Linked DNA regions of Homo sapiens. The protein of the gene in region 4 purifies or fractionates together with the protein of the main gene of each other region. This does not show direct contact. Each region holds a gene or a part of one and is shown on either strand. Other genes may lie near its edges.

Region 1 (3,507 bases), on a different chromosome or scaffold from region 4:
AGATTACTTTTTTTTACTGTATTGGGCTACTTTTTATTAGTTGTCATTCTAAATATTTAGTAGCCAAGATAGAAATAATCATTTTGTAGTTACATTTAAGGAGAATTTTGTCAGCAATCATTGTGCTTTTTAGAACACTGAAAAAAATTTCTAGGTTGCTTTAATTTTCAAAATTGTGTAATTTTGTAATTCTAATCTATTTGGGGAATTAGTGAATACCTTCTCAGTGAGACTTGTAAAAATCTACTTTTACACTTTCCCTTACTTACATGAGCTCTAGGTTTTCTGTCATCTATGTACTAATAATGTCTTTTTCTTTATTCCAGTGAATCTGCATGTCGGTTTTATAGTCAGCAAATGAAGGGGAAACAACTAGCAATCAAGAAGATGAACGAGATTCAGAAGAATATTGATGGTTGGGAGGGAAAAGACATTGGACAGTGTTGTAATGAATTTATAATGGAAGGAACTCTTACACGTGTAGGAGCCAAACATGAGAGACACATATTTCTCTTTGATGGCTTAATGATTTGCTGTAAATCAAATCATGGGCAGCCAAGACTTCCTGGTGCTAGCAATGCAGAATATCGTCTTAAAGAAAAGTTTTTTATGCGAAAGGTACAAATTAATGATAAAGATGACACCAATGAATACAAGCATGCTTTTGAAATAATTTTAAAAGATGAAAATAGTGTTATATTTTCTGCCAAGTCAGCTGAAGAGAAAAACAATTGGATGGCAGCATTGATATCTTTACAGTACCGGAGTACACTGGAAAGGATGCTTGATGTAACAATGCTACAGGAAGAGAAAGAGGAGCAGATGAGGCTGCCTAGTGCTGATGTTTATAGATTTGCAGAGCCTGACTCTGAAGAGAATATTATATTTGAAGAGAACATGCAGCCCAAGGCTGGAATTCCAATTATCAAAGCAGGAACTGTTATTAAACTTATAGAGAGGCTTACGTACCATATGTACGCAGGTAAGAATTATGCAGTTGCCTGTCACTTTTGTTTTCCTGCTTCAAACTGATTTTCTTTCCTGCATGGGTTTATTGTGCCTAAAATAGAAAAGAAACTAACAACCAAAGACCTCTTTTCTTTGACTAAAAATACCCCACTTTATATTTCTTTGGAATGTTTTACTTTTTCTACTACACTTAAATACTTTTTTTTAACCTTACCATCAGTTATAGATGAGAAAATGAGGTCACTTGGCTAAATTTATCCAGTTAGAAAGTGACAGAAACAAGACTAAAGTTAGTAGTAAATCATCATTATTGGGATCTAAAAAGTTTTTTACTCCTTTATCTTTTTTTTCTTTCTTCTTTTTCCATTTCTGAGATTATAAATAAAAATTTTAATATAACAAAATTGTGCTGGTAGTACAAATATACACGGCATTGCTTTCTCTCAGTTTCCACTCCTAAACCTGATTATTTAATAATAAATGTTGCAATCCTGGAAGCCAAGGATTCCAGTTTTATTATAATTTTTCACCTAGAAATGTCTATAGTCAGTGTATTTATTTTACTGACCCAAAAATTTAAAAAATCATAGGAAATGTAAATAGGCTGCCTAGATTTTACATGAAAAACAAATAGGTTATTGTCATTTTTTTCCATATAAAGCTGTTTTTTGAGAGGTACAATTTTTCGGTAGTATGACCTGCCGATTTAGTTGTGCTTCACCAACCTTTTCTATGTTCTTTATGATCTAGACTACAACTATAAAAATGTTTTTTATTCAGTTACCCAAAATTTGTGATTGCAAAATACTTCTTTTCTGCTTAAGAGATTTTTAAGGCTATAAAAGTTCAAATTGCCCTTCTTGCCACATTTTCCTGGTTTTTAAGTCCCCTTAGAGGACTCATAGAATTTTTATAACATGAGCATTCTAAACTTTATCATTTCATCCTAAGTACTTTTGTTTGGGGTTCCTAGACTCATTTGGAGTAAAATTAATCTTTAGATTTTTCTCTGTGTTTGTAAGAAAGAAGTTTTAATTTTTTTTTTTTTTTTTTTTTTCCTGTAGAGCATTGTAAGAAGACTTACTACTAGTGTTTACTGTCACAAGTCAGTGATACTTGGGCAGGAAAACATTTTCAAATTACAAAATTTTTAATTGTTTCTGTAAGACTTGATTGAGTGATAGAAGTTTTCTCTAAATTGCTATATTTCACAAAGTTAATTTATGATTATTAATAAGCAGCTGAAGAATGGTTACAACTATTGTCTGGGGAACTGTCCCTTTTATTTATTTTTTTAAATGAGGACACTTTAAAGCAAAATTAACTGGAACAAGCTGATACTTGTTTTGTAGTCCTGAAAGTCTTCTTTCCTTAATGTGTACAATGTTAGGTAAAGTCCGTGGACATGGTACTTTTGTAATGATGTTTTATTAGTTATTTCTGTCTGATACTTCTTTTCTATATCAATTTTTAGCTTTGGTATAGAGTAATATTTTGAGTGCTTTTACTTATAATGAATATAAAACACTTAAATTTCAAGATTTATAGAACTTTGCCAAAGTTAAGTGTATTGAAAATTTAAGTTGATGAGATTATTTTACTTAAAAAAAATGTTTTTAAAAAATTCCTTCCAATAATTTTTTGAGAAATAAAAGGCCAGTGTTGTGGCTAAGTTTTTTGATATTTTTCTTTTCTGTCTTCTTTTGAAGCTTAACTGAATATTTTAATTTATGTCATAAATATATTACTGGTGAAACTGGAGTCTACAAGCAGCTTTCGTGAGTTGTGGTTTACAGTACACACACATTAGTGTTAACTGTTAGCTTATTTGGGCTATTCTGTAAGGTCTGTTACTGAAGTTATTACTGGCAACATAGAATGGTTTTTAATAGACCATCTGTGAACTTGTAAAACTGAAATGGACTTTTAAGGCCTCACTACAATGGTAACAGATCAAGTTACCATTTGTTTTTAAGAACTACTGGTCTGCTCTTCTCCTCTCATCTTTCTTCAGCCTCCCCAAAGAGAAAAGGGATTTGTGATTTGGTTAGTAGGTATGTTTATTGGAGAACATGCAGTACAGGTTGTGGCTTACACTGAAACAAAGCTAACATTTAACTTACACATTTTTATTTTATTATATAGAATTGTAATAAAAGACATTGGATATAATACATGAGAAAATTTAATGAATACTATAAGACACGACTTACAGACATCTTTTAGATTATTATAGTTTGGTTAGACATTGTCATAAAAACAGAAGAGAAACTGGTTTAACCTTACTTTATTCAGACTTCACTGTGGTGTCAGCCAACTTTATCCCTCAAATATTTTAACAGTAATGTACAAAATGGAGCTATAGATCTCTAATGCTAGAAGAGATGCCCAAGCCTTCACTTTGTAGACAAATCCCAAGGCCCCTGAAGATTATATGATTTCCCAGAAGTTCTATTACGAGTTAATTCCAGAACAAGTCAAGAATTAGGTTTCTTGACTCTAAATAGAGTATATTTTCTACCATGTTACATTGACTCA
Region 2 (3,507 bases), on a different chromosome or scaffold from region 4:
CTTGGGCTTATGTATCAAAAGACTTTTAAGTTTTTGTGGCACATGAATATTTGTATCTAAAATAGTTTATCCTTAAGAGGGTTCTTAAAAATAACTCAGTATTATTTTTTCTGATTACTTTTTTTGGCTTGAAAAATATTAAAAACATTAGGTTGTGCTGCGAGTTTCATAAAGATAACTACAACACTTCTAATACAAACATTTTTTTAGTTTCAGTACAAAACGGTTCGATTCATCAAAAAGATGCTGTAAATGATGATGATTTTGAGCCATACTTAAGTAGCCAGACAAATCAGGTAAGTCTTCTGACAGTTTCAGATTTTAGGAAATTAACCTTTTATTAGTATTAGTTGATTTTTCAAATAGATTATTTAATGAGATTAACCATAACATGGATTCATTCATCTAGTGTACCTATATAGTAAGTGAGTAGTGAGTAGCAGTTGCAGATTTATGGCACAGGAGAGTTCTTCTTCAGAAAGTATAGGCACCAGAAACTAGGTTATGAAATATAGAATAAAGATTTGAAGGTGACCATTATTTGTATATATTATGGTTAGGTTTTTTGTGTGTGTGTATTGAAGGAACTTAATCTTTTAATGTCACTGCTATATCTTCATAGCTTAAGCTAATTATAAAAGGCTTAATTAGCTAGAAATTTGGGTATTTGGAGGAGGGATTAGTTACCTGAAATTGCCTGCAATTTTGGGTCAAATGTAGTGTTTTCTTTTTTTAAGACATTGCAGATTGAATTCATTGATAACTATTGAAAATTTTAACATACCTTGGTAATGTCGGTGATAGAATTAAGGAGTTTATAAACATACTTGCTTTATAAACACAGTTACTTCTGTATTGTAGACATGGACAGTTTTATCAAATCAAGTAATTGGTAACTGGTGGCTTTGAGTATTTGTGTACAAGCGTAATTCCAATTTAAACATTGAAGAACAATGCTATTAGGTATCTGTATGCCATTTCTGCATCCATTTCTGTCTGTTACTAAAAATAAGCCACTGATAGAAATAAATGAAAAAATACATTTTCAGTATTCACCAGTTTTTTTAGAGAGAACATTGTGGAATGAAACTGTTTGTTTTGCTTTAAAAAAGCAAAAAATGCTCAAGAACTTTGGGTCTTAAAATTAGTTCTGTAGTTCTTATTTATTTATTTATTTTTGAGACGGAGTCTCGCTCTGTCGCCCAGGCTGGAGTGCAGTGGTGCGATCTCAGCTCACTGCAAGCTCTGCCTCCCGGGTTCACGCCATTCTCCTGCCTCAGCCCGGAGTAGCTGGGACTACAGGCGCCCGCCACCATGCCCGGGTAATTTTTTTGTATTTTTAGTAGAGACAGGGTTTCACCATGTTAGCCAGGATGGTCTCGATCTCCTGACCTCATGATCCGCCCGCCTCGGCCTCCCAAAGTGCTGGGATTACAGGTGTGAGCCACTGGGCCCAGCCCACCTCTGTAGTTCTTTGGAATAATTTTATGATTAATTTGATTAGAAACTCAGTTCTTTGGAATAATTTTATGATTAATTTGATTAGAAACTCAGTTTTTTTTTTTTCTTTAATTTTTGAGACAGTCTTGTTTTGTTGCCCAGGCTGGAGTGCAGTGGCGCAATCTTGGCTCACTCCAACCTCTGCCTCCCAGGCTCAAGTGATTCTTCTGCCTCAACCTCCTGAATAGCTGGGATTACAGGCACATGCCACCACGCCTGGCTACTTTTTGTATTTTTTAGTAGAGGTAGAGTTTCACCATGTTGGCCAGGCTGGTCTTGAACTCCTGACCTCAAGTAATCTGCCTGCCTCAGCCTCCCAAAGTGCTGGGATTACAAGCATGAGCCACCGTGCCCAGCCTAAAATTCAGATTTTAATTGGCACGTTAAAGATGCCAGTTAGTTTGTGTGTGTAAATTTGAAGAGTAAATTGGAAAACTGAATGAAGTTTGACTTGTCTGCTTGCATATATGGAGAAAATGAAAAACGTACTCTAAAATTTTAACCTAGATTTTTGAAACTCTGAAAGAACAAGGAACCAAATCTTACTACAGAACTGAACAGTTTGTACAGTAGAGTTATAGGGAAAATTTGAACAAAAAGTAGTTCCCAATTTGTGGGATGCAGGATTATTTTTAGGATTATGGAGAGTGGTGGTTGTGTTCAACCTCATCTACCTCTTGGTTACTTCCCCTTAACCACCCCTTCCTATCTACTGAGCAACATTCCTAGCATACATGGGAGGAGAAGAAATAAATGGGAAAGAAAAAAACTTTACGATCTCAGCAAAATTACTTTTCCACGTAAAGATTATGAAAGTAGATCATTTGTTGTGAAATGTAGTGCAAGTTTTAAAATAAGCGTGATTTTACTATATTCTGGCTCACATAGTAATCTCAGTTAACGCTTATGGCAGTATGGCAGTATTTTCCAACTTTGCTGAGAAATCTTAATATTAGGAGGTGTAATAAATATTCCTTCAAAAAGATGTCCATGTTTAGATAGATTTGAGAAATTTTGGAGGCTAAACAGTTGAACTGTTTTTTTTGCTACTTGATTTCATAGTTTATAAATTATAATTGAAAATGAAGTTCTTAAGATGAAGATATAGTATAAAAAATCCTGACTTGTTCAAACTCTTATTTTTTTTTTTTTTTTGAAACGGAGTCTCGCTCTGTTGCCTAGGCTGGAGTGCAGTGGCATAATCTTGGCTCACTGCAACCTCTGTCGCCCAGGTTCAAGAAATTTTCCTGCCTCAGCCTCCCAAGTAGCTGGGATTACAGACACATGCTACCACGCCTGGCTAATTTTTATATTTTTAGGAGAGGTGAGGTTTCACCATATTGGCAAGGCTGGTCTTGAACTCCTGACGTCAAGTGATCCACCTGCCTCGGCCTCCCAAAGTGCTGGGATTACAGGCATGGAACACCGCACTCAGCCATTCAAACTCTTTTTTAAGGAATTTTAGTGGACTGTAAAAGACAGTTTTGGAATTGCTACCTGAGTAATCTTCTTGCATGTTTTGCTTGATAACAGATATTTTACAATTCTTTATTATTTGTCACAAGGACATAGAAGGGTTTCTACTGGAGGAAAAATTTTTGTCAGGAGGATTTCTGGTATTCCATAGAGGCACCTTAGTGTCTTCCTAGGGAAAACCAGCGGAGGGTGCCTGAATCCCACCAGTGTAGCAACTAGCACTGTGGTTTGCGTTTTATCTGTTCTATATATTGGAATTGTGCATAAGACTTTACTTGTAAAAAAAAAAATAGTTTTAAAAAGTGTTTGGGAAACCATTACTTTTTAAAAGATGTAAAGGCATTTACCTTAGTGAACCCAAATGAATTTTTTCAGCTGCATCATTGCAGGTTATGTTGGAGCAAAACATTTGTAAAATAGATTTGTTTTAACTCATGATATTTGGAATCAACATATTTGTATCCTGTTTGAAGAGAAGTTGTAAAGTTTGATTCCAGTAAGGCCTGTTCTACCTCTCCTTTGTGGTACTAA
Region 3 (3,507 bases), on a different chromosome or scaffold from region 4:
GGCAGGCGCCTCTAATCCCAGCTACTCGGGAGGCTGAGGCAGGAGAATTGCTAGAGCCTGGGAGGCAGAGGTTGCAGTGAACCGAGATCACACCATTACACTCTAGCTTGGGTGACAGAGTGAGACTCCATCTCAAAAACAAAACAAAACAAAACAAAAAGATTTAACAAATGTAGTGACCAGTGCAGTCTGTTAGTCTGGGACTTAACTGCAGGGAGAGGCTGGATTCTCCAAACGTATTCATTTTGTGATCTGACAGTTCAAAGGATGCCTGGATTTCTAAACTAATGGCTCTTTTGGGTGCCTGAATGAAAATGATGTTGAAAAGAAGTCCTAGCTGCATCCAGAACCCCGCTCACAGACATTTGACAGGTTTTGCCCATGACTGCCATGGGTGGGACGGGATGGACCAGGAAGGTGGATACCACCAATCCATCTCACTTCTTTCACTTTGGAATCATCTTGTAATACCTCCAAAGGACACAGGAAAACACAACTATTGGATACTGCCCAGTGGGACTAAAGGATCCCATTTAGGACCCATTATAGCATAGATATCCCCTGACTCTGAGATTCAGGCCAGGCACCTGGCCTTGGCTAGAAGCTGTGCAGAAGAGTGAAGCAGCTGGGCTGACTGCTATTGTTTGAAAGGTCCGATTCCAGGGGTGGCCCTTGGCTGGCATCTGAGAACTCGGATCTCAGGAGGGCTCCTGCCACCCCACAGTTCACTGTGCCTGGACTGTGCAAACAACATGGTTTCTGCTCAACAGCTGCTTTCCCTCTGGGAGTCTGGAATTTTAGTACATGCTACACAGAGAATGCCGAAGTGACCAGCCCCCAGTAAAACCTTTGGGTACTGAGTCTTTAATGAGCTTCCCTGGTGTCACATGTATTGTCACAACTTGCTGCGAGTTGCACCCAGCATCCTGTGCGACTCTGCTGGGAGGGGCCTCTGGAGGCTTGTGCCTCGTTTCCCCCCGACTTCACCCCATGAGCCATTTGCTCTGCATCCTTTTGCTGTCATTAGTCTCAGCCCTGAGCGTGACTATATGCTGAGTCTGGTGAGTCCTAGCAGTCATCAAACCTGAGGGTGGGTCTTAAGAGACCTTTGCCACAGAGGCAGTTTGAGATTTAAATGTTTGGTAGGTCACAGTACTTACAACAATGTCCTCCTCAGTGACTCGAGGGTGCAGATTATTCACAGTCATCTTGGTGCCTTCCAATGGGCTGAGAACAGGCTGCCACACAGACAAGAGCATTACCAGAAGCCAGATGGCTGATAAGCATTCCCACAACAGAAATTCCTCCAGGCACGTGACTAGGAAGGCCCAGAGGAAAGCTCCATGGAGAGTTACCACAAATGGGCCCCCTGAACTTCAGTGTCCACTACACCCCCCATCACTCTATGCTAAAAGCATGGACCCTCTCCCATCTCCCAAATACGCAAGCCTCTCAGGCCCTGAGCCTCTACCTGGAAGGCTACTCATGCTTCCAGACCCACTCAGCTAAAAGAGCCCTTTTTCCCAGACTTCCCAACTGGAATGAGATAATCTGTCCTCAGCCCTCCTAATAGCTTTCTTCTGAGAGAGTCTAACATATCACCAGATACCGCAATCTCTCAGCAGGTCTGCCGTCCCCACTAGCCTGCAAGGTCTTTGAGGGTAAGAGTCCCTAGGTCTTGGTTTGCTCATCTGTAGAATGGGGGTGGCAATGCCCACCTCACAAAGGCGTTGTGGGGAACACAATGAGGTACATATAAGCATACAGCCCTCCTGACCCCAACTGCTGCAGTCACCACCATCACCTCACCTCAGCAGCTGGCAGCTCTTTGGGGGGTTCTTCCTTGTTCACCAGTGTCCGGGACATGTTGGTCAAGGCTTTTGTTCGAATAGAGGAAGGGAGAGCAGGAGCTGTGTATGCATCATTCTGAACCACTTTGGTGAGAGGGAGGGCCTTGGACATGGAAAGCTTGGAACTGCTTAGCCCAGCCTAAACGAAGAGACAGAAAAGAATCTGAGAAGCCAGACCTGCAATGTTCTGAAGAAGCCCCAAGAGGTTGACAACTTGCTGAGAGCATGAACCCTCGATGCCTCCCAGCTCTCTAATTCTATTAGAGGTCTGGAGCCAAAAAGGCTGCCGGCTGCCAGTGACATCCCATAGGGAAGGGGCAGGGGGAGAGAAAAACACACAGCCTGAACGCGCACTCACAGAAGCCACTCCCCACAGTGCTAGAAGCTCTTGGCAGGAAGCTTCCATACAGCCCTGACCTGGAAAATTACCCAGGAGCCACAGGCTCACCCACACCACTTAGACTTTCTAAAAATTCTACAATATGAGGCTGGTCAGAAGGCCAAAAGCTTGGCCAGGCATAGTGGATCACATCTGCCATCCCAGCACTTTGGGAGGCTGAGGTGAGAGGACTGCTTGAGGCCAGGAGTTCAAGACCAACCTGGGCAACACAGTGAGACCTCATCTCTATAAAAAATGTAAAAGAGCTGCTCTGCCTGTGGAGTAGCCATTCTTTTATTCCTTTGTTTTCTTAATAAAGCTGCTTTTGCTTACAAAAAAAAAAATTAAAAGGCCAAAAGCTTGAGGCCAAGTTCATTCCCAGATATGCTTCTATCACAATGTGCTGATCACCACTCTTAAGAAGGCCCAGAATTCAGTGTTTTGGTTCCTCTTCTGGCCATCCAGAGGAACCACACACAGCCTTGGCCTCATCAGCTCCGACTGTCAGGGACACTCGGGCATTTGGCAGTGCAGATCACCAAAAACAGCCCCTCCATCTGGATGTGGTCCCTTGGAAACAAAACTCCCCTGTATTAATGTGTCTGAGGAAAAAGGTGCATAAAGCAGAAGTGACGGGGGCCCTGCTGATTTAGGGCAGTGTTTACAGGCACTGACCCAGGGCAGGGAGAAAGGAGGAACGCAGCGGCCAGAGAGGCACATCAGAGCATGGGCACGGGCAATTCACCACGCTCCTCCAAGTCTGGGTGAAGCAGCGTCATCCCCATGCTGAATTCCACATTCCTCATGTGGAATTCTGCGTCTCCAGAGCTGGGACAGCACAGTGACTCCACACAGGGCCCTGAGAGCGAGACTGCTCGGGCTCCATTCCTAGATCCACTGCTTCTCATCAGCTGGGTGATGTTGAACAGGCTTATTTCACCTCTCCATGCCTGTCCCTCATCCATCAACGAGGGTAATCAACAGTACCCATCTCACAGGGTACAAGACGCATGAGTATAAATATGGCATTTATTCAATTAGGGTATCAAATAGGGATAGAGACTCACTGAGCAAGCTGATAGTTCCCTTGATAGCAGACTTGAGCAGTCTAATTACTGGAAAGGCCTGGTCCCTTTGTAAAGAAACAAACTGGCATCATTCAGCTTCACGACCTCTTTTTTTTTTTTTTTTTTGAGACGGAGTCTCGCCCTGTCACCCAGGCTGGAGTGCAGTGGCGCAATCTTGGCTCACTGCAACCTCCACCTCGGGGTTCAAACA
Region 4 (3,500 bases):
CCATCACTCTCCTCTTTACAATGACCTCCCAATAGGTTAAGATGCAGTTATTCTTTCTCACTTTAAGACACCTTTACCTCCGGCTTCTGCCACCTCCTCTGCTCCCCTGTGGCCACTCCTCACACCACTCCACATCCCAGCTGTTGTCAAGTTCTTTCAGTGTTCCAAATGATCTATGTTCTCTTTGCCTTTGAGCCTTGCATATGTTCCTCCCTCTGCCAGAAGCGCTGTTCCCCTTCCTTTCCCACCCTTCTGCCCGGCCAACTCACCTTCATTCTTCCCATCCCAGTTTAGAGGCCACCTTCTCGAAGCCTGGGTTGGGGGGACTCTTCAGTGTTCCCAGGACACCTTGTGCTTCCCCCATAATCACTGGGTGATCATTGTCTTTTCATGTTTCCATAAAGGAATGCATGAAAGAATGAACAAATGAAGTCCAGTAGGGAGCTACTGGACCCCAATCCCCAAATAAACAAAAAATGGCACTAAGGTGCACCCAATGCAGCCATGCACTGTAAGAGCTCCAAGATGGGAGAGAGATCCCAGGAGAGGGTAAGGGAAAGCTCCTGGAGAGTGGCTCCTTAGCCAGGCCTTGGATAAACAAACTCCAGCAGAGATATCCTCAGCAGGTCTCCTTCCCTGACATCAGCTTCCTCCTCAAAACCCTTCTGCTCACACTCCTGCAGGATCCCTACCGACTGTCCACCACCACCCTGATGCTTACCTACCACCCGGAAGAACATGGAGGTGGAGTGCTTGCCCTGCACGTTGCTGGCCACGCAGGAGTAGTTGCCGGCATGTTGGAAATCTACTTGATCGAGGTTGAGGGTCAGGACTTTTTGGTAACGGTTATTATGAAAGTCAGATTGTTGAGGGATTGCGAGCTGCAGCCAGAAGGAATGGAGATGTTATACCAAGGTAGTTTAGGGATTAGAAAGATCTGGGTTCCAATCCTCAGCCTTTAAGGATTACTATCTGCCTTTCCTCTGAGCCTGTTGCTTCACTTGTAAAATGGGGCTAATACTGGCTCCCTGCCCCAAGACTGTAGTGAGGAGTAAATGAGATATGCATGCAAGTGGCTTAGGGCTGTGTCTGGAACACGGCAGGTGCAGTGGGAAGGGAGGGGGCTCTTAGAGGCAGCCCAACGTGAGTCCCTCCTGGAATCCTCCCTCCTCCTCCCTCTCTCCCAATGTCTTTCTGAAATAGCTGTTATATTCCTGGGCTTCAATGGTGGCCTAGGAAACCCTTGCTAAATCAGAAGTGAGCTCACCTCTGGCTTTTGTCTAAAGGCTGGGGCAAAGGCCATGTGTCAAGGTGACAGAGAACCACCTCCCCCCACCCACCCCCACAAAGTTCAGCGGCACAAGCATGAGTCCTGATTCTGTGTCAGCTACTGACTGGGAGTGAGATCTCGGGTGAGTCTGCACCCCTCTCTGGAGTCTGAGCTGTGCCTTCAGCTAAGACAGCCAGTTTGGAGTTGGGGGCCCAGGACTCCACCATGGGAAACCTGGTGTGCTGGGAGGATGGCCAGACTTCACCTTGTGATCTGCAGGGACTGACCTTGGTGTTGTTGTGTTGGAGGAAGACATCAAAGTTAACATCAACGCTGCTGGCTGAGCACACGATCTGGGCAGCCTCCCCTCGAATCCGCACCAGCTCTGCAGGCACCAGTGTCAAGGCTGGGGGCCCTGGGATGACTGAGACCGGGGGAGAGACCCCTGAACACCCAGGCTCCCTGAACATGATAGAGATATTGCTCTCCTCCCTGCCATGGGCCAGGACACACAGGCCAGGGTCCCCATCACTGCCCCATCCCAAATCCTGGGAGGCAGCCTTGATGCTCCCAGTCCCCCCACTGCAAGGCCTGTCCTAAAGAGACCTTGGAAAGTCTACTTTCTCCATCACCTCTACCCCTCCCCAGTCCCGTCACCATTCTCCACTCTGGACTTCTGCACCAGCCTCCTCAGAGACCTCCCTGCCTCCCTCCAAGCCCCCCACACCTAGATTCTTCACTAAAGTGACCTCTTACAAATATAAATGGGACCATGCCTCTCTCCTCTGTAAACATTTGGGGCTTCCCATTACTCTCAGAAAAGAAGTCAAAGTCCTTCCACAGCCCAACCTGTTTCTGACCGCCCTGATAACCCCACCCCTTGTTCACTGCACTGCAGCCCGCTGGACCTCTTTCCTACCACAGGGCCTTTGCACCCACCTTTCCCTCCTGGAATGCCTTTCCTCCCACACTTCAAATGGGAGGCTGTTCTCATCCTTCAGATCTTTAGCTCAAAAATTCCTCAGCAAGGCTTCTGTGACCAGCTGATATGAATTAGCCTCCCCAGCACCTCCATGCCCGCCACTCCCCAGCTTGGTTTCTTGCTCATCACATTTGTATTTACTTTCTATTTAATAGTTAGACTCTAGTCGAATGTCAAATCCGTGACAGGAATATTCCAGCAGCCAGCAAGATGCCTGATGCACAGTAGGCCTTGAATTCATATTTATGCCCATTGCTGCTGTTGAAAGATAATCTAATCCAGATTCCTAAGGCCCAGGGACATGAAAGGACTCACCCAAGGTCCCTGAGGGGGTGTCAAGGCAGAACTAGGGCCCAGGACCTTTGGCTCTTGGCCAGCCCAGGGCTCTGCAGGATGAAATGCCAGGAAAGAGCCCTAATGGCCTCCTCTGCCCACACAGCTGGGGTCCTTTGACCCCCTGGGCAGGTTTAGTGGCTTCAGATCCCAGTGGCATTGGGCTAGCTGCTTCACTCTGACCCTGGCCCTTGTTACAGGGACTGATTGCTGTCTCAAGCCCAGGTCCTCAGGCTGGGGTCCTGCTTGCTCTCACCAGTCCTCCCAGAAACCAGAATCCTGCCTGCCATCCCAGCAGGGTGAGACTCCACCTCCACTGTTACCTGGCCACCGCGAGAGCCATCACACGCACCCACCATCTCCTCCCTGCCTCTTGGCTCAGCATCCCTCCTACACATGCCCAGCACTTGGCCTTAGGCAGGCCCCCAGTGGGAAATCCATGTCTGAGGCTGAGCTTCCGTCCTCTTTCCATACCTAGAACATTCAGAGCCTGTCCCCACCTCACCACTTGGTACTCACTGTCCCCCTGCTGAAGCAGATCTTTGCACAGCCACCTTCTTCATGTCATTCAGATTTCCGCTCTAATAAAGTGTTTCCTTCTCAGTGAGGCTCCCCGCCCTACACACTCCTTATTCAGCTACCATGTTGAATGTTTATTTTTGTAGCATGTCCAATGACTTGAGATGACCTTGCCCACTGAGTTATTTGCTCACATGTGGTTTGTCTCCCTGCCCCGACACCTTGTCAGTCCTGCCCCATAGATGATCGTGGAACCATTGAGGGGAAGAAGTGAAAGAAAGAGGACATCCCACTGCCCCCCATCACACCCAGTCCCCAGTCACCACCCATGTGGCCGCCGGCTCTCTGTCCCCACTCTTCAGGCCTGGCTGCCGGTCCCCATGCCCCACGCACCTT

Evidence for each region.
Region 1: the proteins of CSF1R (region 4) and SOS1 purify together in Homo sapiens (affinity purification with western blotting; one study listed by BioGRID). This does not show direct contact.
Region 2: the proteins of CSF1R (region 4) and YTHDF3 purify together in Homo sapiens (affinity purification with mass spectrometry; one large-scale study listed by BioGRID and IntAct). This does not show direct contact.
Region 3: the proteins of CSF1R (region 4) and POLDIP3 purify together in Homo sapiens (affinity purification with mass spectrometry; one large-scale study listed by BioGRID and IntAct). This does not show direct contact.

What each region holds. Positions count from the first base shown.
Region 1 is NC_000002.12:39,020,045-39,023,551, reverse strand, and holds part of SOS1 (son of sevenless homolog 1), read left to right. Parts: intron 1-326; coding exon 327-982; intron 983-3,507.
Region 2 is NC_000008.11:63,175,121-63,178,627, forward strand, and holds part of YTHDF3 (YTH domain-containing family protein 3), read left to right. Parts: intron 1-210; coding exon 211-296; intron 297-3,507. UniProt on the Homo sapiens protein: Specifically recognizes and binds N6-methyladenosine (m6A)-containing RNAs, and regulates their stability. M6A is a modification present at internal sites of mRNAs and some non-coding RNAs and plays a role in mRNA stability and processing.
Region 3 is NC_000022.11:42,594,377-42,597,883, forward strand, and holds part of POLDIP3 (polymerase delta-interacting protein 3), read right to left. Parts: intron 1,990-3,507; coding exon 1,810-1,989; intron 1,239-1,809; coding exon 1,161-1,238; intron 1-1,160. UniProt on the Homo sapiens protein: Is involved in regulation of translation. Is preferentially associated with CBC-bound spliced mRNA-protein complexes during the pioneer round of mRNA translation. Contributes to enhanced translational efficiency of spliced over nonspliced mRNAs.
Region 4 is NC_000005.10:150,076,555-150,080,054, forward strand, and holds part of CSF1R (macrophage colony-stimulating factor 1 receptor isoform a precursor), read right to left. Parts: coding exon 3,498-3,500; intron 1,695-3,497; coding exon 1,558-1,694; intron 882-1,557; coding exon 722-881; intron 1-721. UniProt on the Homo sapiens protein: Tyrosine-protein kinase that acts as a cell-surface receptor for CSF1 and IL34 and plays an essential role in the regulation of survival, proliferation and differentiation of hematopoietic precursor cells, especially mononuclear phagocytes, such as macrophages and monocytes.